Homo sapiens: one gene and its partners. The protein of the gene in region 1 purifies or fractionates together with the protein of each later gene. This does not show direct contact. Each region holds a gene or a part of one and is shown in the gene's direction. Other genes may lie near its edges. The genes, in order: RAB27B, CHM, GBA1 and SCARB2.

Region 1 (8,770 bases):
AACCAAATATATTTGTTGTTTAAAGCTTACAAATGCTGGTTTTCTCTTAGAACCCACCTTTATTTTTCCTTCATGTTCTGCACTGCATCCCCCATACCTGGCAGTGTACCAGGCACAAGTTGCTTAATAAATGTTTGTTGAATGAATAAATCATTGTGCAAACCTCTCAAATCTATCTTCATTCTGCATTTCAATTCACTTTCTCCACTGCTTATAGATCATTATATTAAAGTATATGCAAATACTTTAATAAAGCATAGTGTTTTCTCTATAGAACAAATATCTTTTGTTTCCTTATGTGTATTTTAAGGGTAATTTAAAATTAACTTTATTTTTATTAAGGTAATACATCTCATAATTTAAAACAAAATCAAAATCTACAGTTCTTGTGGAACAGTGCAGATCGCCTCCTAAGCCCTGGTCTTAATCCCCACAGGCAAACATTTGACTCTTTAGCAGCTTTTGTACTTTTATATGTCTAATTGGTTTGCCTATCCTGCTATTTCTTTATTTAGCAACTTTACACATTATTTATTGATTTTTGTTATGATGATTGAGGGTTTAGCTGTCTTCTCTGCACATATACACAGATAGTCTTTCCCTCTGCCATCCTCCACATGTAGTTTTATTGTAGGTTAGGGTTAATTCTCTTGTTGGCATTCCCAATATTTTTATTATGTCCAGATCTGAACAAAGTGGTATTCTATCATAATGTTTCTTTTTTCTTGCAACTTTTTGTTTCTCATGGAGTTAATAATATCCTTTTAAAATTAGTTCAGCACACTCCGTACCTATTGTATATTATTCACAATTGCCTCTGACTGATCTTTAAGACTGTAACAGAGTGATCTAACTGTGGTAACAACTCTAAAAAATCTTCGTGGCATCATACAATACAAGTTTACTTCTAGCTCATGTGGTAGTCCAATGTGTGGCAGCTGAGGTAGCCATGTCACACCCTAATTCAGGTTCATGACTTTTCATCTAGGGGCTTTCATGTCTTCTAGGGGCTTAGAGCTCTTCGTTGGTTCTTCGCATCTGCGCACTAGTAAGGGAAGAGGGGAAGTGTGGAGGATCTCAGGGGTTATTTTATGGGCATACCCTGGAAGCGATGTACATGACTTCTGCCCACAATCCATGAACCAGACCTCAGTGACATGCCTCCCCACCTGCAAGGGGCTAAGAAATGAAATCTAGTGTGGTGCTCAGGAAAAAGAGCAGAACATGGAATCTGGCGGGCACTTCCCGCTATCTACTGTATTTTCAAATGCACATGTGTATCAAACAATCTATCATTTTCTTTCCATTTTTTTTTTTCTTGGAGACATTCCTACTGCAAGCCATCTGTTCACCTCTCTTTAGGCCTGCTTCACACTTATTGCTCTGGAGAATTTATTTTACTGCCTCTTATGTTGGGCCTGCATTTTTGGGGTTTCATCTCTTCCTCTTTCTTGATTTATAAGCTTGTTTGGGGAACTGTTACTTTAAAATGGCACACAGGATGTATATTTTTTAAGTCCTTGCATATCTGAAAATTTTTTAAAATCAAGCTTGGCTGACAGTTTGTCTTGATATACAATTCTAAGTTCAAAATAATTTCATTTAAAAAATGTGAAGGCATTCAAAGAAACTTCTGGATCCATTATTGCTCTTGAGAAATCCAATGCAATTTTTTTTCCTTGTATGTGATCTGCTTTATGTCTCTGGAAGATGTTTTAGGTTTTTCTCTTTATTCCTGCATTTATTTTATCTCAGAATGATATATTTCGATGAGTTTAATTATTTGATTAATTTAAAGGATTGTTTTCCTGGACGTTTAGTGAAACTTTCGATCTCCAAAGTTCATCATCTTCATTTCTGGTATTGTTTTTGCATTGTTTTCAAATTAGTGTTTTTATCCTTTTCTGCATAGAAAGAAGTCTTTTCTAGAGCTTTCTGAGATTTCCATTAGTCAGAATTTTTTTCCATTTTTTGAAAATTTTCTGCAGCTAAATAGATTTTTCAACTTAGTCTTCTAACCCATCTGTCAGTTTTTTTGTAAATGTTGAGTATATTTTCAATTTCAAAAGATTTTTTTCCTGTTTTGTATATAAATTTCTTTTTTATTCATTATCTCTAGGAGCAGGGTAAAAAGGCATGTGTTCAGTTCATCTTGTTGAACCACAAATTACTCTAGTTTACTTTCTCCAGAAAATAAACCTCCAGTCTCCTGGAAGCTGGATTGAGCAGATGGAGGAACTTATGGTTGGTTGATTGTGTGACAGTGGGGAAGGGAACTCTGGGTCCAAGCATTCCAATATACAGACGTATAACCAAACCCCTGTGTTTACCCCACCACCTGGCCTCCTTCTATGCTGAGATTTCTGCCTCCTAGGCCTGAGCCTGCCCAGGTTTTGCAGGAAGAATTGGCTTGCTTTTTACCATAATCTCTCCTGCAGGCATGCAGTGTATAGAATCCTCTGCTCTTCCAAATCAGTTACCACGCCTGCATCTGATTTAGCTTCTTCCAAAATTCATTACAAGTTTATGTGTTATTTTATCTGCTTATTTGTCTTTGTGATTCAATAACATTTAAAAAAATTCATTTATTCTTGTAATAAAGCAGTTTGAGGAGAGATGAAATACATGTGATAATCTTGCCATTTGTAACTACACATCACCCCATGTACATTAATGTTTACCTCAGTGCCATATTGATTGAATTAGACAGATGTTATGTCTACTTAAGTTATGCTACATAAACTCCAGGTACAGGAAGATGTTATTACTATTATTATCATGACACACAATGCTGTCACCTTGTTTTCACTGGTTTTCCACTGTTTTTTATTCTGCTCTACCTCTGGTCAAAGTGGCCTTCATGGAGTGGCCAAGCAACATTTCTCTTATGTCTTCCTACTCTTTCTCTTCCTTGGAACCCCTCTTCCCAGGGAAGGAAATGTTCCACCACTCTCTGGTAGTGTCACTATGTAACACTACTGAATCTGAGCCTTGGAACCTCGGAGACAGGACCATATGTGGCAAGTCACTCCAGGAGAGCTATCCCTGCAAGAGTTGGCCCTATAAAGCAGGTGACACACTTATCTAGGGAAAGGTGGCAAGGAGAGTCATCAATAAATGTGTGTGTCAGATTTTCTTATGGCAGGAACCTTTTCTAGAAGTTGCAGTGAGGTAGTACAACACAGTGACCACTGTGAGCTCGGCATTCAGGATCAATAGACCTGTCTTCCACCTTTTGAACTTCATCACTTTGGACAGATTTACTGCGACTTTCTCAACCTCAGTTACCTCATTCTGAAAATGGAGACAATAAATATAATAGACGCCTTGCCTATTTCACAGTAATGTTGTGAAAGCCAAATGAGATGAAACTCTATTGCATACAGGAAATAATAGCTATTAGGACTAATGTCAGTAGTGAACACATGAACTAGATAAAGAATATGGGTTATCATTGTATAGCACAGAGGGTGATTTTAAGTCAATGTGTTAACAGTGGAAAAGATTCAAGGCTCTTATGTTCTTTCTTTTATTTCTGTCTGGGCCCATGGACACACACTTCTTATATACTTAGATATTGCTGTTAAATGCAAAGTAGATTTATCATAAATATAGATTCCAAGCATACATACTTTGAAAATCTACAGGCTGAGCCTCAAAGACTTTTATGCAGTAGATCCAAAATAATTTTTAGGAACTGGATCTTACTTGGGGAGAATGGAATAGATTGTTACCAAAATTATAAGTATAGCCAACACATTCATAGAACTTACTGTGCCAGGCACGTTCTACACACATTACTGATATGAAGTCAATTCTTCACAATAACACTATGAAGACATTATTATTACTCTTCTTTTCAACTTTCAAGAACATTGAAGGACATAAAATAGAACTTCTTTAATAGTTTCATAATAGAATAGACAGATTTCTATGAGACCAAAATGTTTTCTCTAATATTCCATTTTTCCACTAGTTTGCTATTGTTTGTTTTGTGTTTTGGTTTGGGCTATTCCTTTGCTCCCTTCTACAAGAAATTCTCTGGGAGCTGATAACAGCAGTGCCTCCCAGATTGTCTCTAGGGCATCGAATAAGAAACAAGTTAAGTAATTAAAATTCAAGCAGTCATTGGCATCTCGTTGTTTACTAACATGAATGCAAGACACAGGTTTGGAACTTTTAAATTTTGTTCACAGAGGAGTAAATCGGTTGTTATTATAATGTACCTAACCTTGTATTCTTACCTTTACTACCAGTCTGTAAATTAGGGATGTCTGAATGTGTCTAAAATGGAATCCCAAGATGGGCAGCCAGGATCTTTGCTTTGTGGACGAATCTAATGTGTTTAGAACACGGCATAGCACATAGTAGGTGCTTAACAAATACTGGTTCAATGCCTCCGTGTGCTCATTATCTTACTTAGTGGTAACCTATTGATCTCTGAAGTGACTTTAGGAAGTGAATTAGGGCTTTGGGAAGTGAATTTGGATGTTGCATACTGATTAATGCATTCATACGAACACATCCTAACTTTTAAAATATTAATTTCTTTCCAACGCCCTCTTTTATTTCCCGAGGCCATCCTCTGCTCCCCACTCGCAATCCCTCGCCTTCACTCCTCATAGTTAATGAGACACCCCCTCGGAGGAGAGAACGCAATGTCAGGGCCCCAGTTCTCACAGCGCCCTGGGCTCTTTGAATGAGAGACATCAAAGAAAACACAGAACAAAAATGAATAAAAATGAGCTCGCTGGTAAGGCTAGAAGCCCCACAGTGTGGAGACTTCATCCCCGAGAGGAGTGTGTTTCTCACTGCAGCAGTTGAGTCACCAGCAAGACTTGCCTGAGGTGAGCTCCGCACATCCGCGTTGGGACTTGCAGACACGCCTTCTTCTCACACAAACCTTACCCAGCCCCGCCGCCGCGGCGGACTCCGAGGGTGGTGCCACCAGCCCTGCCACTCGCAGTCCTGACGGGCAGGGGCTGCGGACCGCCCGGCCTTGGACCCATCCGGAGCCACAGGTTGGAGGAGATAAGTAGCTGTCCCCGTGCTCATCGCCCTGTGGAGCAGATCCTGTCTCCTTGCTGACGGTGGAGCCCGGGAGTTCCAGGGCTTGGGAAGGGGAAGGAAACCTCTCTGAAATCTGACACCTGCTCTCCCGGCAAGGAAACTTCGCAGGCTGGTGAGTTGGGAAGGCGGGCTGCTGCTGCTGGAACGCGTTCCCACCCACCCGGGTGCTGCAGCGCCGGCCTGCGCCGTGGGAAGTGAGGCCTCTGTGTGTGTGTGTGTGCATGTGTGAGTGCGTGTGCACCTTCGATCGCGGTTTCCAGCAGAAATCCTTGCAAAGAAGACAGTAGTGCTGTGTGCTGCACGGATGGCATGGGCCAACTCGACCTGGCTCTCCTTGAGTGTTTGCTTATCAAACAGCTGGTTACCACCAAAAAAAGCAAAAAGAAAAACAAAAAGCCTAGGCACAGCAATGCCAATTTCCTTTCATTTGCATCTCAAAAAACAATCAAAATAATGAATAAGAAAAAGCATGGATGATGATGTGCTCAGAGTTTCATTCCAGGAGGAGCGACTTAGTGAGGCAAGCCAGGAGAGCAATAAGACATTTATATGCACTTCCTTAGATGAAATAGCCACAGAGACCTTAAGAGTACTTTCTGTTTTCCAATTTTTTGCTCTGTTACTTTCGAATTCTGATCTAAGTGTTGCACCAACTAGGGTATATGTGTGCATGTGTGTTCACCCAACTGATCACAATAAATTAGCTTTCAAGACTTTCCCACCCAATGCAACATTAATTAAGCCTCTGAAAACTACTGAAGTAGGTGAACTGTAAGCAGAGACTGCATTCCTAGGAAAAAGCTGTGTTTGGTTAGAGCCTTCACACCTGTATCATGTTTTGTGAGTTTTTTATGTCAAGATGTAAAGCTAAGGGTATGTAATTCCAGTTGTTTTAAACTGCACATCATTAAATTAAGCCCAAAGTAATAACATAAATTTCAAGGTTATTAACAACAAAATTATTGTTTAATATAATACAGCTCTGAATTTTGATTTTGTTCTGTTTATAAGAAAAATGTCTACAGTTCTCAATATTTAGTTATATTCACACATATTCATTCATATATAGAATATACAGGGTTTTATGGTTATAAATTTTGAAAAGTTGAGGGAAAGGATAGACTTAAGCATTAATATAAACTCAGATATTTAAGTTTAATGAATTTTCAAGCTGCTGTAAAGTCCATATTGCAGTGATGAAGAGAGAGACATACCTGTCATGTGCCATTGCCCCTCAAATAGTTATTTTTCATAGTTTCCTAGCATAATCCTCTACCCAGATGGGGTCAGCCATCCTTGAAGGCAAGAGGTGATTCCTACCAATGACCAAAAAGGGGTAATCTTGACAGATAGTTTAATATTAATGGAGCTTTTCTGTTTCAGAATTGACTATGGCCTCTCATACAGTGTTACTGTCATTGCTTTCGAAAGGAAAACAAAACATAGCAGATAAAACTGGATGAGCCTGTTCTCATAGTTGCCAAGAAGGGATAAAGGGAATCTGTTGAATGTAAGCAAACCACAGTTCCCCTTTCTCATAGGTCATTTCTGGAACAGGCATGTTTGACCCAATAGGGAAGGTAACCCTAATATAATTGATCTTCTTGGTAGAAGATCAGTTGGTATGCCAGTTTACACTACAACTGTATGTTGGTTTCAGAATTGCTGTTCATTTATTTCACTGTTTTTCTGGAAAAATGGAAGTTATCCAAATGTCCAGGTAGTTCAGAATAGAAACCTGCTCTTTTCCCACCCTCACTCCTGCAAATTTTTGGTTAGGTTTTTGGGCTCTCAGATCAGTACGGCATGAAATATAGAACAATTACTCATATAAAACTCATCTCACAATCCAGTTTCTTCAGTTGATTCATCAAGGCAGGTTGACCAATAGTTCAGCTCTTAAGCAAGTAATTGTAATGTTGAGATGCAAGGAAATGATTTCAATAAAAACAGACAGGACAAATCAGGTGTTTCCCATGAAGAATATGTCACTTTCTAAAGATGGCTGCCAAATGGGAATGATTTTTTTTTTAAATTCATTATTAGGTATATATGGGCTTAAGTATATACTATAGAAGTAGCAAGCAGCAACATCACTATGCATAATAACATACCTATTGTAAACCCCAAATATGGAGTTGATAGTATTACTCAATTTCTTTCACACCCTTTGCAATCATTATTCATGTTCTCCAAATATTAACCTCCCATTGGCACTCCTTAAATAAGACAAACTTGTCTAGATTGCCAATAAGGAGAGTAACACTCTGTTTATCAAATGGCCAAAAAAATCTTAAATAAATTTTGTCTTTTTAACTAAACAACTGCTCAATATATTGAGATAATTAAGTTGCTTGTTCATTTGTTCAACAAATATTTGGTAAGAGTGTTATGCACTGTTCAGGGCTCTGTGTGGACAGAAGTGGACCAAAATTCCTGACCTTGTAGAGCTTATCTTTTACCAGGGAGACAAAGACCAACCTAGATAAGCAGGGTGAGTCTATGGCACAGTAGCAAGAAGTGCTCAGCAGAGAGTATAAAGCCGAGGAGGCATGCAGAAAGTGTCAGTGGCCGGTGTCAGGGAGGACTGAAATTCTAGATCAGATGCCCAGGAAAAGCCTCACTGAGATGATATTTTAATATCAATCAGAGGCAAGTAATGGAATGATCCATGTAGATATGTGGAGGAAGAGCATTCTAGATTGAAGCATTCTGGCATCTTTCAGGAACAGCAAAGAAGCCCATGAACCTGGCACAGAGGGAGTGAGATGGGGGTAGCAAGAAATGGGGGAGAGGAGATAATGGGGACAGGTCTTGGAGGACTTTGAAGGTCCTAATGAACATGTTGGCCTTTGTTTTTTATTCCAAGTAAAATGACAAAACACTATGATTTAGATATAGCCCGTTGAACATTTTTCAATAAATATTTACTGAGCATACTATGAACTTTAATATTCGTCTAAGCCCTGTGGATAACAGATGTTAGTGAGATATACGAGGCCTCTGCTGTCATGGACATTATATCTGGGGTTTGGAAAGAGACGGATAAGTAAATAAACAAATTAGTAATTCTGGAACTTTTAGTGATACTAAGAAGAAAAAATGTTAAAGGGTAATACAATGAGAGTGACCTGAAGGGGACTGTGTGATTCGGTGGTCAAGAAAAGCCTCAGGGGAGGTGATTTTTTTTTTCTTTTTTTTTAACTGAGACAGAGTCTTGCTCTGTTGGCAGGCTGGAGTGCCCTGGCACGATCTTGGCTCACTGCAACCTCCACATCCCGGGTTCAGGTGATTCTCCTGCCTCAGCCTCCTGAATAGCTGGGACTACAGGCATGCACCACCATGCCCAGCTAATTTTTCTATTTTTAGTTGAGACGGGGTTTCACCATGTTGGTCGGGATAATCTCGATCTGCTGACCTCATGATCTGCCTACCTTGGCCTCCCAAAGTGCTGGGATTACAGATGTGAGCCACCGCGCCTGGCCAGGTGATGTTTTTAAAAGATCACTCTGGCTTCCTTGAAGAGACTAAGTCGTAGGGTGACCAGAGTAGAAGAGAATCCAGTTAGGAGGCTATTCCAGTAGACCAACTACAACAGTGGCAAAGATTAGGGTCAGAACAGTGGCCACCAAGAGAAGTAGATAGATTCAGGAAACACTTGAAGGCAGAGCTGACAGAACTTACTAATAAATTGGATAAA
Region 2 (8,581 bases), on another chromosome or scaffold:
AACACCTGTTCCTCAGTTTTTCATTTGATTCCTCTAAAAGGCTGTTACAAGGTATTCATAAGACACATTTACTTTGAGGTGTTTCTTTGTTATTACTATTAATTGGGAAGCAGTACTAGATGATATCAGAATATATACCTCCAAACTCTCAGAGTAGTATATGAATTTTGGCAATTAGTGAAAAATGCATTTACAAAAAGCAGTGTTAAGCAGTTTTTATTAAGAAAAATTATCTAAAAAATATTGTTACATTATAAATGACCTTTGGAATTAAAGCTAGCAATGTAAATGACACTAAATTTAATTTGTGAAATCAATTTTGATAGTGAACATTTTTATAAGAACTAATGATGCAGATTGTTTTCCTTTAGATAAACAGTCTGCAGCTTAAGATGGTTCGACTTAATGATTTTTCAACTTTGTAATGGTTTTATTGGGGTATTAAATGCACTTTGTCTTACTATATTGGGTTTATCAGGACGTAACCCCATCATAAGTCGAGGAGCACCTGTGTATGTTAAAATCATTGTAATATCTTAGAACTCCAAGGTTCATTTGAAGGCTTATAATGCAGCTACATTGTTTTGTAATTGGTAAATGTGTTTTTATAGTTTTCAAACACTTTTAAATTAGTAGAATTGAACTATTACTGGATTCTGAGGTTTTCTCTGAAAGGTTGAATATCTTTTTAAGAAAATGTCTTTTACCACAGTATAAAGTTTTAAATTTGGGGAAAGATAACCCTTTTAGATGAACAGAATTTTGCTTTCTGAGGATGTCAGTGGAGTTTTAGGAGCTTTTGGGTGTCTTTATATTTTCTCATTAGGTATTAACTTCAACCTTGGCAGAACTCCAAAAATACTGTGGTTGTTTTTAATGGAAAGTGAGGACAGTGTTGTGTTTTTATTGCTTGTGTTTTCCGTAGTGCTAGGAATCTCACCAAATTATAATGTTGAGAACAGTAAAACGATAGTTTATTGATGTAGAAAAAATTTCCGAAGAATAATTTCTTCTCTTCGCTTATACCTTTAATTAAGTATTTTGACTTATATCTTCCAGGTTGTCCAGTACTGGTTAATGTATTTCATTCACTCTATAGGGCCCCCATCACAGAATGTAATAGAGAACCACTGACTAGATCATTTGCTATGCTCAGTTTTCACAGTGTCATCATCATAGTCTGTAATAAGAGAAGTTGCCATATTTTGTCTTATCTGTAAAGTGTAATTAATTATCCTTTCTTAAAATTAAAGGCATGGAACTTTTGCTTTAAGAGTTAGGCATGGAACTTTTACTGAAAAACAAAAAATTAGGTGTGGAACTTTTGCTGAAAATTGTCCCCTTAGATCCCTCATGTAACACACTTTAGTTTTGTTGGTTTTCAAGATAATAAAAGTGAATAAGAGTGTGAACAATTCTGTAGAAAATATATAAATCACCTTTCATATTATGACTCTTCATTCTTAATGCTGTTAATAGCGATGCTATTATGTGCTTATATGGCCAATGGGCTTTTGTCATGTGAATGCAGAAAACCTAGGTATACAGGTTTTGAGTTGACTGTTGAGCTGTGGGCAGTTTAACAATATCTTATTTTTGAGTAGTTTTTTTTTTTTTTTTTTAGACGGAGTTTTGCTCTTGTTGCCCAGGCTGGAGTGCAATGGGACGATCTTGGCTCACTGCTACCTCCGCCTCCTGGGTTCAAGTGATTCTCTGGCCTCAGCCTCCCAAGTAGCTGAGATTACAGGTGCCCATCACCACGCCCAGCTAATTTTTGCATTTTAGTAGAGACTAGGTTTCACCATGTTGGTCAGGCTGGTCTTGAACTCTTGACCTCAAGTGATCCACCCACCTCGGCCTACCACAGTGCTGGGATTACAGGTGTAAGCCACCGTGCCCGGCCTGATTAGTATCTTATCTTTGATTAACCTTTTAGAGTTTATAAACTACTTTTCATATATGTTAGCTTCCTTATCTCACAACAGTTTCATAAAAGGTAAGGCAAATGGACTGATCCCCATTTTATATGTGGTGAATCAGAGAGATTAAATGACTTGCCAAGTGTTTCCTAAGTGATAAATCTAGGATAGAACAAAGTGGGTGTTTTCCTCACTTTGGTTTCCTAGATCTCAAAAATATTCATGTAACATTAATGATATCAATTTGTTTCTTCACTAGATTTTATTAGAATTACTATAACAGTAAATATGGCATTTTATTTCTTGACATTTGAGTGTTATTCTATCATTGTCCCTCATTTTTTTTTGTAGTGTTCATTGTGTTATTTTTAATAAGGCACTTCTTTTTTTCACTTAACTCGGACTTTCTAATTTACAATACCGTGTTTTTTTCTTGGCCTTATTTTTTGTGTTTTTTGCAACAAGTTTGTTTCGCATTTGAAACAAAAATAGTCTGCACGTATAAACCATTATTAATTAAGCATTTATTGGATACCACATCTATGGAGCAGTGTGGTAGGTGTCGTGAGGGGCACAGAAGGAGCGGTGCTAAGGTATTCCCTCAAGGAATTACAGTCTGATTTGGAAGATAAAGGATATACTGGAAAACTAAAGGACTATTAAAAAGGAATGGATAAATACATGCAAGGTAAACTGCATATGTGTATTATGGGAGCATGGTATAATAGAGTGATGAGTGTAATTGGAGTAAGGAAGACTAATTGGAAGTTAAATTTAAACTTTTTCTTAAAGTAGTTTGCTAAAGTATGTGATTATGTTTGAGAATGGAAGAATTGTGATATTATGCAGAGTGGGAAGAAAAGGACAGAAGAAACAAATGATATGAACCAAACTGTCATGATTTGACAATTAGAATTGATAAATTCGGAGTTAGAGATGCCATGTTGGAAAGTAGGTGGAGATGAAACCAGAAGATTAGTAAATAAGGAAGGTGGTTTGGTTTAGAGACAGGAAAAGGAAGATTTTTTTGTGGGGTATTTGATATAAGGAAGGGCTACTGTTAGGGCTACTGTTAGTCAACTAGCAGATTTTTACTTGCCAAGACCAATCACATACAAGGCATTCTGCCAGGTATTGAGCAGTGTGGCAACTCAGTGAAAATAGTGGGTTCTGTGGAGGATAAAATATCACAGAAATTCATAAAGCAGGCAGACTGAATGGGAGCCTGTTCTATAAATCAAGACAATGGTGGACTGAGAATGTTAGCTCCAATAATAAATTTGGAAATGGGGCTTCGACTAGAGTAATAGACATCAGTACTAAAATAGGCAGGAAATTATACAGAAAGGTCCTATTAGATACCACATTGTGATAGGCCAACTTAATCTTTTCAAGGCAGATATTTTTCCCTTTATTGAAGGTCTTCTGTCGTATCACCAAGTCAGGAATTCCTCAGTAATAATCATCTTTGATAACTACCACTGTTGAGTATTTACTATGTCCCAGGCACTGTGTCAGGCTCTTTGCATGCAGTACTTAATTTAATCTTCAAAACAACCTTGTGGTAGGTGGTATTATCTCTGTGTCATAGATGGGTAATTTAGGTGGTCTCAGAGAGGGTAATTTAGGTAATTACCTAAATTGAGGGTAATTTAGGTGGTCTCAGAGAGGATACATAAGTATCTAAGTTCGCAGAGCTTACTAGTCATATGGTCAGGGTTTGAACCAAGATCTGTTATTCTGAAGACTGTGTTCTTCATCACTGTGGTAATTTGCTTCCAATACAGTTCCCCTGTCTGTCTTAAATTCTCAAAAATGTGCATGTGACATGAAATCTTTATATCTTTCAAATCTTAATTTTGTTTCATATTTTACTGAAACATTAACAGATGAATGTTTAATGTCTGAGTCACATAAGCAAAACGTACACTGAACTTGATAAAAGGGGTAAGGGAATATATATATAAAGCCTGGTGTTTATTATTATATTTCTTATTAGTCAGGATTTGCATGAAGATGTCGAAGAAGCTGGTGCACTGCAGAAAAATCATGCTCTTGTGACATCTGCAAACTCCACAGAAGCTGCAGATTCTGCCTTCCTGCCTACGGAGGATGAGTCATTAAGCACTATGAGCTGTGAAATGCTCACAGAACAAACTCCAAGCAGCGATCCAGAGAATGCGCTAGAAGTAAATGGTGCTGAAGTGACAGGGGAAAAAGAAAACCATTGTGATGATAAAACTTGTGTGCCATCAACTTCAGCAGAAGACATGAGTGAAAATGTGCCTATAGCAGAAGATACCACAGAGCAACCAAAGAAAAACAGAATTACTTACTCACAAATTATTAAAGAAGGCAGGAGATTTAATATTGATTTAGTATCAAAGGTAAGTACTAATTTTACCCATCTTTGCATTGAAAACAGTATCTGGGCCCATAAACCCAGTTTTTGTAATTCTCTGAGATGCAGAACATTTGTTTTGTAAAGAGATAGTAGCCAGATGTTTGTAATTCATTTAAAATATTCCTTAAGTACAAATTAAAAACATATTTAAAGTGCTCACATGAAAATGCTTTAATTATGTTTTTAATCTATACCTGAAGAATACTTTTGTGCTTGAGCACATACTACAACCTAATATTCTCTGGACACTATGAATTCTATCAAAAGAAAAATTCTAATGAACCTGTTTAGAAATCCATGTTATTTACAGTCAATTTCCATCGATTCTTTTAGCCTTTATGTATAGTAACTATTTTCACAACTGTATGATGATGAATACTCAGAATAAACCAATGAATTTTTAAAAATCGTGTTCACATGGACACAGCGAGGGGAACATCACACACCAGGGCCTGTCGGGGTTGGGGGTTAGGGAAGGGATAGCATTAGGAGAAATACTTATGTAGATGATGGGTATGTAGATGACGGGTATGTAGATGACGGGTTGATGGGTGCAGCAAAACACCATGGCGTGTGTATACCTATGTAACAAATCTGCACTTTCTGCACATGTATCCCAGAACTTAAAGTATAATTTAAGAAAAAAGTCTCAAAAAAATCATGTGTTCAGGTTTGAAAGCTTCAGAGGAAAATTTAATAGTGATGGAGGCAGGAAGGCTGGGAAGAAAGCTATTGTCTTCGGTTATGTTCCTGAACATAACTAACTTGAATGTTAGTTCACTGTAACTTCACAGGAGGTCCCTCCATCTTAGAAGCGTACAATATTGCATTTGGTTTATAGGAAGCAAGACTATTTTTAGTGCAAAAGAATAGAAAATCAGTAAGATAAAGGATTATGGCCTTAAAGGGTCATGATACAGGACAGGGTAAAAGTAGAGAAAAACAGACTAAATCCTATAAGTTGAGAGCTAACAATAAGTAATTGAAAAGAAGTAGGAGAGGATAGTGAATAGCACAAGACTTGCCACAGAACTAGCACAGAACTAGGCTTTTCAATTTAATGTACTTTCTTCAAGTTCCAAGTGATAGGGGACAGAGAGGGACCAAAACATTTCCCTTGACAAGTTGTTTCTGCAAATCCCATATCCTCATACTCTTGCTCCCTTTGAACTTGATGCCTGAAAATATAAATATCTTTTTACTACCCATTTTTCTTTCTGTCTGTCATGTAGCACTCTGTGTCTGATTTTGCATAGTTGGCTATTGCATTGGTTCTACTTCATACTTCCGTACTATCTCTCCCACCTCCATCTACTTTGACCCTGTCATGATTTGAAATCTAGCATTTTTTCCACATTACCTTGGCTGTTCATCTGTGGATGGAAGTTTAATCCTAGCTCACTAATAACCTTCCTGGTCCCATGAGCAGTACTCTATGAAATAGGTTAAACAAAACATAAAAACTGAACAAGTCAAATAACAAATGGGCTTTGTGTGACAATTCCATTTTGAAGTAATTACTTGGAATTTGGAATGTTTTACCTAAATAAATGATGATATAAATGTGGTTAAGAATCAAGGCTATTTCATAAAAGTCTGTAACTTTTATGTTAGCTGAAATTTAGTATATATCTTGCAAAGGGAAATGGTAGAAGACGGTGCTGTTTCAATTGTAGGAATTGGTGTAGAAAATTATTCAGTTGTATAAGAAAATGAATGCTGGTTGTGGGAGGAAAAAGACAATTGAATTAGAAGTTGACACATTTGAAGATACCCTGAAGGAGACTTCTGGGTATTTTCATCGGTTTGAATGGTTAGTAATAACCAGTTCTCTTATGGTAAGTAAAAACCAAACATGTCTAGAGGCAGTGGACTAGGCAGTTGGGACTGCGTCCTGCAGAGTTTCATGGGTTCATACGTTCTACAAAATAACTAATAAACATTTAATGTACTCATTTTCAAAACCAGAAGTATCTTAATCACATATAACCATAGTAATACAGGAGATTAATTTTCCGTTTTTAAAATGTTAAGTCATTTAATACATATTCAGTGCATGCTAGATGGAAAGCAATGTATTCCATGTTATTGGGGCAATTGGTCACTCCTTAGAAATTTTATCTGTTCTAATAATTGCAGTTAATAAACGTCTAAGTTTAGGATGATTGCCAAATATCTATCTTAAAGCCCTAAAGCCCTACCTCCTTTTTTTTTTTTTTTTTTTTTTTTGAGACAGAGTCTTGCTCTGTTGCCAGGCTGGAGTGCAGTGGCGCCATCTCTGCTCACTGCAACCTCCGTCTCCTGGGTTCAAGTGATTCTCCTGCCTCAGCCCCCTGAGTAGCTAGGACTACAGGCGCGTGCCACTATGCCTGGCTAATTTTTGTATTTTTAGTAGAGATGGGGTTTCACCATGTTGGCCAGGATGGTCTCGATCTCTTGACCCCGTGACCTGCCTGCCTTGGCCCTCCAAAGTACTGGGATTACAGGCGTGAGCCACCGTGCTCGTCCAAAGACCTACCTCTTTTCTAAAGTCCAACTCAGTATCTCCAAACTAGTTGACATTTCTATATGCGTTCAACCTCAAAGACATCATGATATAATTAAATACTGTGGGGCTTTACAGTTGACAATACACATTCATGTATATAGCCTTTTAAAAAGTAATAGCTCAAGGTAGGTTAGTTAAATAAAATACGTATAGTGTCATACTGCTCAGACTAATAGAGAAGGTCAAAGATGAAATTCTTAAAATGAAAGCTCATTTCTAAGTAAGTCCATACTCTTAATAATTATGGAACCAACATGCTAAGGAAAAATTGTTAATTAATAAATCTAATTTCCATTATTGTAATCAAATTGCACTGCTCTTTAGCCCCTCATCACTGTGGTAGATCGCTTAGAGGGTAGTGAAAAAGAGGCTTAGGCTGAGCGTGGTGGCTCAGTCCTGTAATCCCAGCACTTTGGGAGGCTGAAGCGGGCGGATCACCTAAGGTCAGGAGTTCGAGACCAGCCTGACCAACATGGTGAAACCCTGTGTGCTACTAAAAATACAAAAAATTAGCTGGGCGTGGCATTGCATTCCTGTAATGCCAGCTACTCGGGAGGCTGAGGCAGGAGAATCGCTTGAACCTAGGAGACAGAGGTTGCAGTGAGCTGAGATTGAGCCACTGCACTCCAGCCTGAGCAGCAGAGAGACTCTGTCTCAATAAAAAAAAAAGAAAAAGAGGCTTAGATTCTGATATGTACACATTTATTATTTGTGAGCTTCAGAAACAAAAATCTAGTATAATTTTAATTGAAATTTGTTTTTGTTCTTGTGATATCTTAAATGCATTATTTTTCAAGCTGGCATTAAACCTTAAGGTTTATTGGATCTTATTAAATAAAAATGCAGTTTCATATTTTATATCTTAATGTTTGTGACATTATTATGGCTATGCAGGGATCCTTGAGTCTCAAATGTGTATCTTTTTAAACAAGTGATTTTTGAAGTAACTATTTTTTATCATTATTATAGAGTTAAGAATTGGCAATATATTCTTTAAAACATGGTCTCTTTCAGTAATGTAGTGTGTTAGGAAGAGGGTAATGAAGTAACGTGCCATATTTAATCAGGATGATCAGATTAGCTTCAAAAAAGTGATGTCAATTTTGTTTTGCAGAATGCTGAACTATTAGTTTATAAAATTTTACTTGAATGGTATTGATTTACTGATAGTCTTTACTGACTTATTAGTTGCTCAGACTAATGGTTTAGATTGATTTTTGAGATTCCTTTTTCTTTGTATAGTAAAGCTAATTTTCCCATTTATTTATTATAGATGTAACATTCATTTTTAATATTTATTGAGTTATAGGCATTAAGAGTATCTTAATATAGGAAATAGTCAAATCTGTTGCATTTAACCATACGGTTAACATGCTAGATAATACTGTTTACATTATTGATTTTATCTCTCTGATATTACTTATGAGATGTTGAAAGATTAAATCAATTTCTCCCATACATGCCAGCAATAATCATCATCTTCACTTTTTGAGAAAGACATATCTCATATAAACCCAGACTTCTAGAATTACAGAAGTACCTTATAATTTGACTTTTTCAGTGTAAATGCATCACAAATATTTTTTTCTTTTTTTGATGGGGTAGGGAGGTTCACTGGACTGATTTCTTCTTATAACTACCTGGCTTTGTGTAAGACTATAGATTCTTATCCAAAACCCTCAGGGCCTGGTGTATTCTATCATTAAGATT
Region 3 (5,522 bases), on another chromosome or scaffold:
AGCCCCTGGACATCACCCACTTGGCTCAAGACCAATGGAGCGGTGAATGGGAAGGGGTCACTCAAGGGACAGCCCGGAGACATCTACCACCAGACCTGGGCCAGATACTTTGTGAAGTAAGGGATCAGCAAGGATGTGGGATCAGGACTGGCCTCCCATTTAGCCATGCTGATCTGTGTCCCAACCCTCAACCTAGTTCCACTTCCAGATCTGCCTGTCCTCAGCTCACCTTTCTACCTTCTGGGCCTTTCAGCCTTGGGCCTGTCAATCTTGCCCACTCCATCAGGCTTCCTGTTCTCTCGGTCTGGCCCACTTTCTTTTTATTTTTCTTCTTTTTTTTTTTTTTGAGAAGGAGTCTCTCTCTCTGTCACCCAGGCTGGAGTGCTGTGGCGCCATCTTCACTCACTGTAACCTCTGCCTCCTGAGTTCAAGCAATTCTCCTGCCTCAGCCTTCCAAGTAGCTGGGATTATAGGCGCCTGCCACCAGGCCCAGCTGATTTTTCTATTTTTAGTAGAGACGGGGTTTCGCCAGGCTGTTCTCGAACTCCTGAACTCAAGTGATCCACCTGCCTCGGCTTCCCAAAGTGCTGGGATTACAGGTGTGAGCCACCACACCCAGCTGGTCTGGTCCACTTTCTTGGCCGGATCATTCATGACCTTTCTCTTGCCAGGTTCCTGGATGCCTATGCTGAGCACAAGTTACAGTTCTGGGCAGTGACAGCTGAAAATGAGCCTTCTGCTGGGCTGTTGAGTGGATACCCCTTCCAGTGCCTGGGCTTCACCCCTGAACATCAGCGAGACTTCATTGCCCGTGACCTAGGTCCTACCCTCGCCAACAGTACTCACCACAATGTCCGCCTACTCATGCTGGATGACCAACGCTTGCTGCTGCCCCACTGGGCAAAGGTGGTAAGGCCTGGACCTCCATGGTGCTCCAGTGACCTTCAAATCCAGCATCCAAATGACTGGCTCCCAAACTTAGAGCGATTTCTCTACCCAACTATGGATTCCTAGAGCACCATTCCCCTGGACCTCCAGGGTGCCATGGATCCCACAGTTGTCGCTTGAAACCTTTCTAGGGGCTGGGCGAGGTGGCTCACTCATGCAAACCCAGCACTTTGGGAAGCCGAGGCGGGTGATCACCTGAGGTCAGGAGTTTAAGACCACCCTGGCCAACGTGTTGAAACCCTGTGTCTACTAAAATACAAAAAAAAAAAATTATCTGGGCATGATGGTGGGTGTCTGTAATCCCAGCTACTCAGGAGGCTGAGAAGGGAGAATCAGTTGAACCCGGGAGATGGTGGTTGCGGTGAGCCGAGATCGCGCCACTGCACTCCAGCCTGGGAGGCTGAGCGAGACTCCATCTCGAAACAAAACAAAACAAAACTATCTAGGCTGGGGGTGGTGGTTCATGTATGTATGTGTATATACATATATATGTGTTTATATGTATATATATATACACACACACACATACATACACACACATACACACACAAATTAGCTGGGTGTGGCACCCGTGTAGTCCCAGCTACTCAGGAGGCTAATGTGGGAGGATCAGTTGACCCTAGGAAGTCAAGGCTGCAGTGAGTCGTGATTGCGCCACTGTACTCCAGCCCGAGTGACAGAGTGACATCCTGTCTCAAAAACAAAAAAAAATCTCCCCAAACCTCTCTAGTTGCATTCTTCCCGTCACCCAACTCCAGGATTCCTACAACAGGAACTAGAAGTTCCAGAAGCCTGTGTGCAAGGTCCAGGATCAGTTGCTCTTCCTTTGCAGGTACTGACAGACCCAGAAGCAGCTAAATATGTTCATGGCATTGCTGTACATTGGTACCTGGACTTTCTGGCTCCAGCCAAAGCCACCCTAGGGGAGACACACCGCCTGTTCCCCAACACCATGCTCTTTGCCTCAGAGGCCTGTGTGGGCTCCAAGTTCTGGGAGCAGAGTGTGCGGCTAGGCTCCTGGGATCGAGGGATGCAGTACAGCCACAGCATCATCACGGTAAGCCACCCCAGTCTCCCTTCCTGCAAAGCAGACCTCAGACCTCTTACTAGTTTCACCAAAGACTGACAGAAGCCCTTCCTGTCCAGCTTTCCCCAGCTAGCCTGCCCTTTTGAGCAACTCTGGGGAACCATGATTCCCTATCTTCCCTTTCCTTCACAGGTCTGCACACCTCATTGCCCCTTTTGCAACTACTGAGGCACTTGCAGCTGCCTCAGACTTCTCAGCTCCCCTTGAGATGCCTGGATCTTCACACCCCCAACTCCTTAGCTACTAAGGAATGTGCCCCTCACAGGGCTGACCTACCCACAGCTGCCTCTCCCACATGTGACCCTTACCTACACTCTCTGGGGACCCCCAGTGTTGCGCCTTTGTCTCTTTGCCTTTGTCCTTACCCTAGAACCTCCTGTACCATGTGGTCGGCTGGACCGACTGGAACCTTGCCCTGAACCCCGAAGGAGGACCCAATTGGGTGCGTAACTTTGTCGACAGTCCCATCATTGTAGACATCACCAAGGACACGTTTTACAAACAGCCCATGTTCTACCACCTTGGCCACTTCAGGTGAGTGGAGGGCGGGCACCCCCATTCCATACCAGGCCTATCATCTCCTACATCGGATGGCTTACATCACTCTACACCACGAGGGAGCAGGAAGGTGTTCAGGGTGGAACCTCGGAAGAGGCACACCCATCCCCTTTTGCACCATGGAGGCAGGAAGTGACTAGGTAGCAACAGAAAACCCCAATGCCTGAGGCTGGACTGCGATGCAGAAAAGCAGGGTCAGTGCCCAGCAGCATGGCTCCAGGCCTAGAGAGCCAGGGCAGAGCCTCTGCAGGAGTTATGGGGTGGGTCCGTGGGTGGGTGACTTCTTAGATGAGGGTTTCATGGGAGGTACCCCGAGGGACTCTGACCATCTGTTCCCACATTCAGCAAGTTCATTCCTGAGGGCTCCCAGAGAGTGGGGCTGGTTGCCAGTCAGAAGAACGACCTGGACGCAGTGGCACTGATGCATCCCGATGGCTCTGCTGTTGTGGTCGTGCTAAACCGGTGAGGGCAATGGTGAGGTCTGGGAAGTGGGCTGAAGACAGCGTTGGGGGCCTTGGCAGGATCACACTCTCAGCTTCTCCTCCCTGCTCCCTAGCTCCTCTAAGGATGTGCCTCTTACCATCAAGGATCCTGCTGTGGGCTTCCTGGAGACAATCTCACCTGGCTACTCCATTCACACCTACCTGTGGCGTCGCCAGTGATGGAGCAGATACTCAAGGAGGCACTGGGCTCAGCCTGGGCATTAAAGGGACAGAGTCAGCTCACACGCTGTCTGTGACTAAAGAGGGCACAGCAGGGCCAGTGTGAGCTTACAGCGACGTAAGCCCAGGGGCAATGGTTTGGGTGACTCACTTTCCCCTCTAGGTGGTGCCAGGGGCTGGAGGCCCCTAGAAAAAGATCAGTAAGCCCCAGTGTCCCCCCAGCCCCCATGCTTATGTGAACATGCGCTGTGTGCTGCTTGCTTTGGAAACTGGGCCTGGGTCCAGGCCTAGGGTGAGCTCACTGTCCGTACAAACACAAGATCAGGGCTGAGGGTAAGGAAAAGAAGAGACTAGGAAAGCTGGGCCCAAAACTGGAGACTGTTTGTCTTTCCTGGAGATGCAGAACTGGGCCCGTGGAGCAGCAGTGTCAGCATCAGGGCGGAAGCCTTAAAGCAGCAGCGGGTGTGCCCAGGCACCCAGATGATTCCTATGGCACCAGCCAGGAAAAATGGCAGCTCTTAAAGGAGAAAATGTTTGAGCCCAGTCAGTGTGAGTGGCTTTATTCTGGGTGGCAGCACCCCGTGTCCGGCTGTACCAACAACGAGGAGGCACGGGGGCCTCTGGAATGCATGAGAGTAGAAAAACCAGTCTTGGGAGCGTGAGGACAAATCATTCCTCTTCATCCTCCTCAGCCATGCCCAGGGTCCGGGTGCCTGGGGCCCGAGCAGGCGTTGCCCGCTGGATGGAGACAATGCCGCTGAGCAAGGCGTAGCCCACCATGGCTGCCAGTCCTGCCAGCACAGATAGGATCTGGTTCCGGCGCCGGTATGGCTCCTCCTCAGTCTCTGGGCCTGCTGGTGTCTGGCGTTGCGGTGGTACCTCAGCTGAGGGTCAAGGAAGGAAGGTGTGTTAGGAGAACTAGTTCTTGGATCCCTGCCCACTCTCCCCAGGGCTGCCCCTCCCATCTGCCCCTTACCTCCATCCCAGGGGAAGTAGAGACTGAGAATGTGGGTACAATAGGCACAGAGGTTGTGCAGCCCACGCAGGTGGACCTGCAGCTTCCCACTGGGCAGCTTTGCCTGCAGCAGCAGGGCCAAGTAGCTGAAGACGAAGGCGTCCAAGGAGGCAGGGCTGGAGCAGAGAGAGAAGGGTGGGATGGAGGAGAACCACTGGGGTAGAAGGGGTAAAGATGGAGCTGGAGGAAGAGTCAGCCTTGGGAGGTGGGCTCTGGGCAGCAGGCGGCCACCAGGGAAGGACAGGACACACAGTTCTAGACCTGGTATGGGGAGAGATCCCCAGGTGGCGCCAGCCTGGCCCTGAATAGGGCTCTATCCCAGGGCTGCATAAAGGGCACACTCAGTGCCCCACAGCTCTTCAGGCCCTTCCTGTGCCTGGCTGCCCTCCCACCCTACCCTTTTGTACCTCTGAGAAGGCTCTGGCCCCACGCACAGCCCCACTGTCACCAGGGCCAGTATCTGTCTCAGGGACCTCCTATCCAGAGCCTGAGCCAGCCCCAGCCCCAGCCCCAGCTCCAGCTGCTCCATCTGAACCTGTATCTTCTTCCAAGCCACCCATTACCCTCTTGGAGTCAGACTCACGCATCTCCAAAGAAGAACTTTTGAGAGCCCAGGCGCTGAGAGAGCAGGGTCAGACACTCCCGAGCCTCTCGGTACAGCTGTAGGGGCGACACAGGTAGGCTTGCAGCTGCGGGAACAGTGCCACCTCCGCACCTAAGCACTCCCATTCCTGGCCAGCATCCTTGGGGCTCATCTCATACAATAGCCCCCGGTCTCAGAGCTACCTCCTTCTCCAGCTCTTCCTCGTCCTCAGGCCTGTGCTCCCCAGTCAGCAGCTGTAGCCGTTCCATGTACTGCCGCTGCATGCGGCCAGGCAGGAAGAAGTTGAGGGGAAAGGGCATAGCCTCTGCATACCACTTCCGGGTCACTTCTACGTAGTTCTTGGTGTCTATCCAAAAAGTATGTACCTGGATTGGGTGGGCAGGAAGAAACAGGCAGGTCTGAGCCAGTGCACCTGTCTGATTCAAGGTGGGCTTCTGACCTCCATGCTCTCCTGAGTCTCTGTGTGGGTCTGTGTGTTCCCGTCCCCTCCCCGGCTGGCCATGGATGCTGGGAGGTCTGGGCACACTCACCAGCACCGGGATCAACTTCTCCTCCAGGAGAGACATGAAGGCCAGGGTGTCTGCCCCTTGCTGAGCTGACAGATCATAATCAGCATTGTACTTCTGTGGAGGAAATATCCATGGCGTG
Region 4 (8,581 bases), on another chromosome or scaffold:
GTGGAATGGAATGGGAAAACGTAAGTCAAATGATTTATCAGTGGAATTATTTTTTCAGTTTTCATTTAAACTACATGTCTACTTCTACATTGCTTAAAAATGTGTTTAGCCTTTTTTGGATGAAAAATATAAAAACATGTAAATAGTCTTGTAATTATTATTCTACAAATCAAGATGGTGGTAAAACATCTTACAGATTAAATATTAGTGATTTGTAGATTTATCATGGCCAGGCATGAATTACAGGCCAGTGAAAAGTCCCACTCTTGCTTAGTAGTCATTGAGTGATGTGTAGTAGCTACAGCACAAATACTTTTCAAACCACCACATGTTTTGGGCTATTTGGCCATTGCCTCTATGAAAGCTGATTTGGGCCAGGGACCTACTTTTTCTCCCCCTTGATCTAATTAAAACTGTTGTGTCTGTGTATGAATAAGATACTGTGGATAGACAGCTCCAGTTAAATCTTGCAAAGTCCTGACCATTTAAGAGAATCTAAACTCAAATGTGATCATCTTTACTCTTTCTTGTGCTTATCAATTATAGGTCACTTGACTGGTGGATAACAGACAAGTGCAATATGATTAATGGAACAGATGGAGATTCTTTTCACCCACTAATAACCAAAGATGAGGTCCTTTATGTCTTCCCATCTGACTTTTGCAGGTAAAAGCTTTAAAGATAAGTTCTTTTTCAAAAATAAGGTCTTTCACTGCAAGACCACCAAAAGCATGAGGAATATATGCAGACACACTTATTATGCATGGATATTTATGCATAATCAGTGATAAATGCTGATGGCACATCGAGACAGTATAGTGTACTGGTTCACAGCACAGACTTCTGACTGTTGGTTTGAATCTTGGCTCTACCACTTATAGCTGTGTGACCTTGGGCAAATTACTTAACCACTCTGTACCTCACTTTCCTTATTTGTAAAACAAAGATAGAAATTGTTAACTATGTTAGAGGTTGTTATGAGGACAAATGAGTTAGTATTAGTCAAATACTTAGCCCAGGGCCCATCACACAGTAACCAATATTAAGTGTTGGCTCTTAGTTACTATGATATGCTCTGTCAAGCATCAACTGACCTGGTCTACTTCCAGTCAATAGGTAGTCTCTACATGGAAGCCAAATAAAAGATACTGTTGTCCATATTTCAGCAGAGTGGTTTCCTCAGGGGAGGCAGAGAAGGAATGGAATCAAGAGCATTACGTAGACAGGTTCAGTTATATCCATAATATAATTTTTATTTGTCTAAGTGGCAGATACAAAGGTATTTGTTAGAGTATTTTATCTCTTTCTGGTGCCTAAAATTTTTCATTAAAAAATGCTGTAGGGGTGGTTTGGTTTGTGCAGTGAAACCACCTATGTTATTCACAACCTTGCGAGAGATGTATCAACAGCTCTGGTTCAGAGATGAAAAAGTGAGGCCCAGAAGGCTCTTCCGGCCAGCCTTCAAAGGAAGGGCTGAAGGCTCAGTGGTGACTGTGTACATCAAAGTGGTTAGGCACTATGCAGTGTAAGCAGTGGTCATATTACATGGGACTATGTTTGAAATCAGTAAGAATGAAAGGCAGAATTACGTTGAACTCCATTTAAATAAATGACTGGGGCAAAATATGGAATCTGATTTTTCTTGGAGGGGGGGATTGAGTATCAAAGTGTGTATTCCAATAAAGTATCTGTCCAATGTGACACTTTTCAAGTGCCTAAGACCCTACGAGGCCACGGCCATCGCTGCCTGTTCTACCTTAGCTTTGGCTCTGCCGTGCCCTGGCTTCCCTGGCTTTGCCGGTGGCCCGTCCACACTGGCATATGTCCATGCAGGTCTAGAGAGGCCTCTTATTTCTTTTTTATGTGAGTCTCCATTCTAAATGTTATCATCTTAATTTTGTACCACATATTGTTTTTTCTTGTTTGGATGATATCACCGTTGCTACAATAAACACCTTCCACTACAATTCATCTTCTGCTTTATTACACGTTGAGTTGACAGAATGCCTTCCAAACATTCCTTTCTACTTACCCTGTGAGCTTTTGGCCATGTTGTACCTGAGAACTGTTGCTAACTTGCGGATTTCGGGCAGATTACACTGACCAGAGTCCACATTCACTTTTTATTCTTACATCCTAACAGGTCAGTGTATATTACTTTCAGTGACTATGAGAGTGTACAGGGACTGCCTGCCTTTCGGTATAAAGTTCCTGCAGAAATATTAGCCAATACGTCAGACAATGCCGGCTTCTGTATACCTGAGGGAAACTGCCTGGGCTCAGGAGTTCTGAATGTCAGCATCTGCAAGAATGGTAAGAACTCAGAGAGGGGACATGATAGGGGTGTCAAGAATGCAGAAGGATTGGAGTTCAACAAAGAATATGTAGCTGGGCGTAGTGGCGCACACCTACAGTCCCAGCTACTAAGGATGCTGAGGTGGGATGATCACTTGAGCCCAGGAGTTCTCAAGTCCATCCTGGGCAACATGGCGAGACCACTGTCTCTAAAAAACAAAACAAACAAAAAAGAATATATTGTCAGCCCAATAGAAAGATCAGTTTCTTTCAAGAACAATGTTTCATAACATGGCTATTGAATGGTAAAAAAAAATCATGGCTTTTCTGTGATGCTTTTTATTTCTAGAATGCCATGTTGTGTTTTTTTTTCTGGACAGTGGTTTAGAAGTCTTAACAGTAATAATAGCTCATGTTTACTAAGCACCTGATGTATGCCAGTCACTGTCCTAAGTGCTTTACATATTTACATGTAGTTAATGCATGCAAAACATTAACTGATTTCATGTTCAAAACAATGCTAAGGCTGGGCACGGTGGCTCATGCTTGTATTCCCAGCACTTTGAGAGGCCGAGATGTGAGGATTGCTTGAGGCCAGGGGTTCAAGATCAGCCTGGGCAACATAGCAAGACCCTGTCTCTACAAAAAAAAAAAAATTAAAAAATTAGCTGGGTGTGGCGGCACACACCTGTAGTTACAGCTGCTCAGGAGGCTGAGGCAGAGAGATTGCTTGAACCCAGGAGTTCGAGGTTGCACTGTGCTATGATTGTGCTGCTGCACTCCAGCCTGGGCAATAGAGTGATTCCGCACCTCCCCACCAAAAAAAAAAAAAAGCTAAAAGAAAAAGTGGACAACTCAGTTTTAAGAAAGTACGTATCATGGCAAAGATTCTCAGTGATTTTGAAGCAGAGTTAGTTTTAAACCCTGACACAAATGTCCCAGTGTTTCTTAATGTCAGAGCTACTCTGCTCCTTTCCATGAATGAGGCAGAATTATCAGTGGCACAACTGACAAAACTATTTTCTTCATCTTGAAGAGTAGTTTTAACAGCCACATGTTGCAGAATTATTCACAATGAACTTACTAGATAGTAGACATTCAGCGGCCTGTTTTTATAATTGGGGAAACTAGGGCTCAGAGAGGGAACGTGATTTTGATGCGACTCCTCCCTCTGAGCAGATCCCTGGCGGAACTCAGGGTCTTCTCATATTTGCCCTGTGATTCCCTCTTGGGCTGTAATTCCTCTTTAAAATTTCTCTGGAGAGCTCTCTGTGTAGTCCCTTTCTCCTGAATAGTAATGTGCTCACTTTTGCTCCCTTATCTATCTCATTTTAAAATCTCCTTTCAGGCCTGGCATGGTGGCGTGTGCCTGTAGACCCAGCTACTCAGGAGGCTATGGTGGAAGGGTCGTTTGAGCCCAGTTTGATTCTAGCCTGGGCAACATAGCGAGACTCCATCTTTTAAAAAAGAAAAAAAAAAAAAGAATAAGATATCATTTTGGAATAAGTCTGAAGTCAGCAGTATACCTCCTGATCCTTGTCTGACAGGGCAGTGACCCCCACACCTGGCTTTACATCAGAATTATCTGGAGAGTTATTAAAAATATATTGGTGAGGCATGGTGGATCATGCCTGTAATCCTAACACTTTAGGAGGCTGAAGCAGGAGGCTCACTTGAGGCCAAGAATTTAGACCTGCATGGGCAACAGGGAGACCCCATCTGAACAAAAAATTTAAAAATTAGCTGGGCATAGTAGCATACACCTATAGTTCCAGATACCCAGGAGGCTGAGGCTGGAGCGTAGGAATTCAAGGCTGCAGTGAGCTATGATTGCAACACTGCACTCCAGCCTGGGCAACAGAGTGAGACCTGGTCTCAAAAAACAAAAAAATTATATATATATAAAAAATTGTTTATATATACGTATATCATATATATGTGTATATATACATATATATATACAACTGACAAAAGTATTTTTCATCTTGAAGACTAGTTTTAACAGCCACATGTATATATTTATGTATGTATATGTTAATATATTTGTTAATATATGAGTATATTAACAAATTTTATAGTTATATATAAATATGCATATATTTGCATATACTTATATTTGCTATATTTTAATATATATGTATATAGTATATATATATAGGTATACACACACACGTGCGCAAGTGTGCACACACACTCATGGTGCACACACATGCATGTATGTCCCAGGGTCCCATGTTGGATATACCAGGGCCCCAGAATCTACACTTTTAACAAGTACTCCAGCTGATTTCCATAAAGATGGCGTCTAGGTATTTGGGGACCATTGTGCAAGGGAACATGGTACCCTTTACCTGGAGATAAAGACCAAGGGTGAATGGGAACAAGTTCCTGGTTGTGATCTCCCCCATTGCCTTACTGGTAATAGTCCTGAAACAGTGTCCCTGCCCCCTCATCTGGTGTGCATCTGGCTCAAAGCAAAAATGTAGATATATTTTCTCTTGCTGTTTTTATTAAATTCTGTTTCCTTAAGAAGCTGATGCCAGAATCAACAGAAGTATTCTACTTTACACATTTAAACTTCTTGCTACAATCCTTTTCCTCTTCCCTCTTAACGTATTCCCGAATTTGGACTGAAGTGAAACTCCCCAGGATTATCCTCCAGTGTTTTGAATTCTCCAGGGAAACATTTTGGATAGCAGGATGAGTGTTCTGGAGTCAGGCAGATTGGGTTTGAGTCCTATTCTATTTGTTGGTAAATTGGCCAAAGTTTATTAAGGAGGGTTCCAGACATCAGTTTTCTCATTAATAAAATGGAGGTGGTTATAGCTTCTTGAGGTTGTGTGAGAGTTAGAAATAATATATATAAAACACTCAGGACAGTAGCCCCTATTAAGCCCTCAACAGATTTAAAAAATACATTTTCAAGGTCATTATAGGTCACAAAGAAGGAAGTCATGCCTTTGTGGAACTATTCAGCAGTAAACAGCAAAATGCATGTGCATGTGAGAGATGAGGGATGAGTTCCTTAAGCCATGGGCTGGTGAATATGTAAGCAAATTTAAATAACTTGCCGACAAGCTCCTTTCTCCAAAAATGTATTTCCCTGGCAGCAATTGTTGGGTCCCTCTCTTCTTTTCAATAGCCAGATCTAGAATAGGTTTCCTTTAGTAACTTGTTTCCCTATTTGGTTATATATATATATATATATATATATATTTAAATTTACATAAGCACTTATTTGGTTCTTAAAATGAATAGGAAAGGAAAAACCCCAGAATCTTTGTGATCTGGTTAGAGGCTGGGTGTATAGCACAACCAGGCTAACTCTTAAAAAATTATGTAGGCCAGGTGTGGTGGCTCAAGCCTGTAATCTCAGCACTTTGGGAGGCTGAGGCGGGCAGATCACTTGAGGTAAGGAGTTCAAGACCAGCCTTGCCAACATGGTGAAACGCTGTCTCTACTAAAAATACAAAAAAATTATCCGGGTGTGGTGGTGCATGCCTGTAGTCCCAGCTACTTGGGAGGCTGAGGCAGGAGAATTGCTTGAACCTGGGAGGCGGAGGCTGCAGTGAGCTGAGATTATGCCTGTCTTTGGTAAAAACAAAACAAAACAAAACAAAAAACCACCAAAAATTTTTTTTTAATTTTAAAAAGGACAAGAAATAAAAAGTCAGTCCACTTACTGATAGAGAATTGTAGTTGAAACTAGTGCTTTGAGGTACAACACCCTTCATTCACTTAGTATTCTGCCTTCATAGCCTGATGGCTAGCTGTCCCTGGGTAAATTTTGTAACTTCTATGAACCTCACTTTCTTCAAATGCAAAGTGAGGCTAATAGTTCTGACTTTACTGGGCTGTTGGGAGCATTAAATAAAATAATGTGTATGAAGCACTTATACTTTAACTTCAGTAAATATTTGTTGAAGAATAAATAATTTAGCCTGAACTTCAATATATAATGTGGAATAAAAAATTGGGGGTAAATGAGATGTCAGAAAATGAAGTATAAATCCTGAACTAGGAGGTAAAGGATGGTGTTTTAGCCTACCCAAGTTAATTTATATGTAGCTTTTTTGTTTTTCTTTAGGAACCAGGCTGTGGCCAGGAACTTTTATATTCAGCTCAGCTTAGATTTTAAAAACAGCATCATTCATTTCTGTTTTCCTTCAAATGCAGGTGCACCCATCATTATGTCTTTCCCACACTTTTACCAAGCAGATGAGAGGTTTGTTTCTGCCATAGAAGGCATGCACCCAAATCAGGAAGACCATGAGACATTTGTGGACATTAATCCTGTGAGTACATACTTCCTCCTGGTAAAAGAGCATATGTTTTATTCTGTCTATACATTGTTCACCAGTTTAGTCCTGAGCCTTCTTTAAAAATATCCTTACTTTCATATACATATTCAAGTGGGAGAAATTCAGCTCAGTGCTGATGGAGGCATTGTCTCATAGCCCTGTAATTAGAAGGCTGAATTTTGTGGATTGAATAGCAGAAATACGAGCAAACCTGCCTTTAACAAAAAGCAACAGTGAAAACTCAGTTATTGGAAACTACTGATGTACCCATATAACCTGGTCAATCTTCTGATGCTAGCCTTGGACCTCAACATATATTTATTTCTCCCCTTGGGACACAGATCGATAAGGTTAAAGATGTCCCTTTGCTTCCTCACTGCCAGGAATATTTTGGTTGAAATATGAATATGTATATTAACCTCAGTCACTTTTGGCAAACTTCTTTCTACAGGTTATTTGAGAGTTTATTATATTATTAATTGTAAAGGTATCAGATATACATAGAGGAGACATACACACGTGTGTGTGTGTGTGTGTGTGTGTATAATACACATTTACTCCTGTATTCATAGACGAGAAAAACAAAAACCATGCTAACCATGTCTTCATTTTTGGAATTTGAACATTATGGACCAATAAAAAAAAAAAACAAGAACATTCTTTTAGCACAGTATTTTATGGGTACTTCACACTCTTAGCTGCATACATTGCATTTGTATCTGAGAAACCAGTGATCTTATGCTCTGGTGAATAAAATCGTGTGTGGTTTTCTCCCTTTTCTCTTAGCCATCAGCTGATCAGTTCCCTTGGATCAGCCAAACTGTTAGCAGTGCTTGTCACCAAGGGACGAACACAGTCTTATAACCTTAGTGCAAAGATGGAGCTGCCCTAAGGATGACAAGTGCTGCAGCTGTGCCCCATGGCTACGCTAGGCGGGCCCTATACTAGGATGCCACTCTCTGGCAGTGACCACCACCCTCTTCTTAGCTCTCTGGACAACTGCCTGGAAATCCAGACCTGACAGGCTATCTTTTAGGCCTCCTTCCTGTTGGATCCCTTCTAAGGCTGTGCTATTCAGAGTGGCAGCATCCTGGGAGCTTGTTAGAAATGGCCAGTCTACTGAATCAGAGCCTGCATTTTAACAGGATTCCCAAGGACCTACATTCATACTCATGTTTGAGACACACTGGTCTATCAGCCACCTAATACAACCCATGGTTCTCATTCTGTTCTGGGGATCACTTTTACTTGTTTCCACTCTGCCTGTCACACATGGTAATGGTCACCTTGTTTATGAGGACTACACAGAAATGGTGCTCTATTGAAAAAGTTGTTTGCAGTTTAATAAATCCTAATGTTTCCTTTTCACTTCTCTGATTTGCAGTTGACTGGAATAATCCTAAAAGCAGCCAAGAGGTTCCAAATCAACATTTATGTCAAAAAATTAGATGACTTTGTGTAAGTTTTGCTTCTTTCTATGGAGGGGACAGCAGTTTTGCTCCATTGCCCGTCTGGTGGGGTTGATGTCAGGAGGAGTACAGCCTACTTCATCTAAGCCTGCTCACCCCTGCCCTTCAGGGATGGGGCATGATCAGCATTTTCATGGGTGCCTTGGTCTTGGAATTTACTTGTTTTATTTAATCATACACTTACAGAGTACTTCCCATGGATCAGGTATTGTTCTCAGCACCTTATGTGGATTCACATATAACCTTGTATTATCCCCATTTTACAGATGAGGAAACAGAAGCAGAGTGTTTAGGTAACTTGGCTAAGCCTTACTATCTAGTCAACTTTTATCCACTCCACTAAGCCTTTCCCTCATGCACCTTGACTCTCTTGGTGTATTAGACTGTTCTTGTGTTGCTATAAAGAAATACCTGGCTGGGTACAGTGGCTCATGCCTGTAATCCAGCACTTTGGGAGGCCAAGGTGGGTGGATCACAAGGTCAGGAGATCAAGACCATCCTGGCCAACATGGTGAA

Evidence for each region.
Region 2: the proteins of RAB27B (region 1) and CHM purify together in Homo sapiens (co-immunoprecipitation; 3 studies listed by BioGRID and IntAct, with this or other methods). This does not show direct contact.
Region 3: the proteins of RAB27B (region 1) and GBA1 purify together in Homo sapiens (co-immunoprecipitation; 3 studies listed by BioGRID and IntAct, with this or other methods). This does not show direct contact.
Region 4: the proteins of RAB27B (region 1) and SCARB2 purify together in Homo sapiens (affinity purification with mass spectrometry; 2 studies listed by BioGRID and IntAct, with this or other methods). This does not show direct contact.

The regions. Positions count from the first base shown.
Region 1 is NC_000018.10:54,823,519-54,832,288, forward strand, and holds the start of RAB27B (ras-related protein Rab-27B), read left to right. Parts: upstream 1-4,958; 5' UTR 4,959-5,182; intron 5,183-8,770. UniProt on the Homo sapiens protein: Small GTPase which cycles between active GTP-bound and inactive GDP-bound states. In its active state, binds to a variety of effector proteins to regulate homeostasis of late endocytic pathway, including endosomal positioning, maturation and secretion.
Region 2 is NC_000023.11:85,959,390-85,967,970, reverse strand, and holds part of CHM (rab proteins geranylgeranyltransferase component A 1), read left to right. Parts: intron 1-3,918; coding exon 3,919-4,306; intron 4,307-8,581. UniProt on the Homo sapiens protein: Substrate-binding subunit of the Rab geranylgeranyltransferase (GGTase) complex.
Region 3 is NC_000001.11:155,232,728-155,238,249, reverse strand, and holds the end of GBA1 (lysosomal acid glucosylceramidase isoform 1 precursor), read left to right. Parts: coding exon 1-116; intron 117-671; coding exon 672-909; intron 910-1,780; coding exon 1,781-2,005; intron 2,006-2,405; coding exon 2,406-2,569; intron 2,570-2,938; coding exon 2,939-3,055; intron 3,056-3,149; coding exon 3,150-3,255; 3' UTR 3,256-3,798; downstream 3,799-5,522. UniProt on the Homo sapiens protein: Glucosylceramidase that catalyzes, within the lysosomal compartment, the hydrolysis of glucosylceramides/GlcCers (such as beta-D-glucosyl-(1<->1')-N-acylsphing-4-enine) into free ceramides (such as N-acylsphing-4-enine) and glucose.
Region 4 is NC_000004.12:76,167,876-76,176,456, reverse strand, and holds part of SCARB2 (lysosome membrane protein 2), read left to right. Parts: coding exon 1-20; intron 21-546; coding exon 547-666; intron 667-2,143; coding exon 2,144-2,313; intron 2,314-6,471; coding exon 6,472-6,590; intron 6,591-7,980; coding exon 7,981-8,054; intron 8,055-8,581.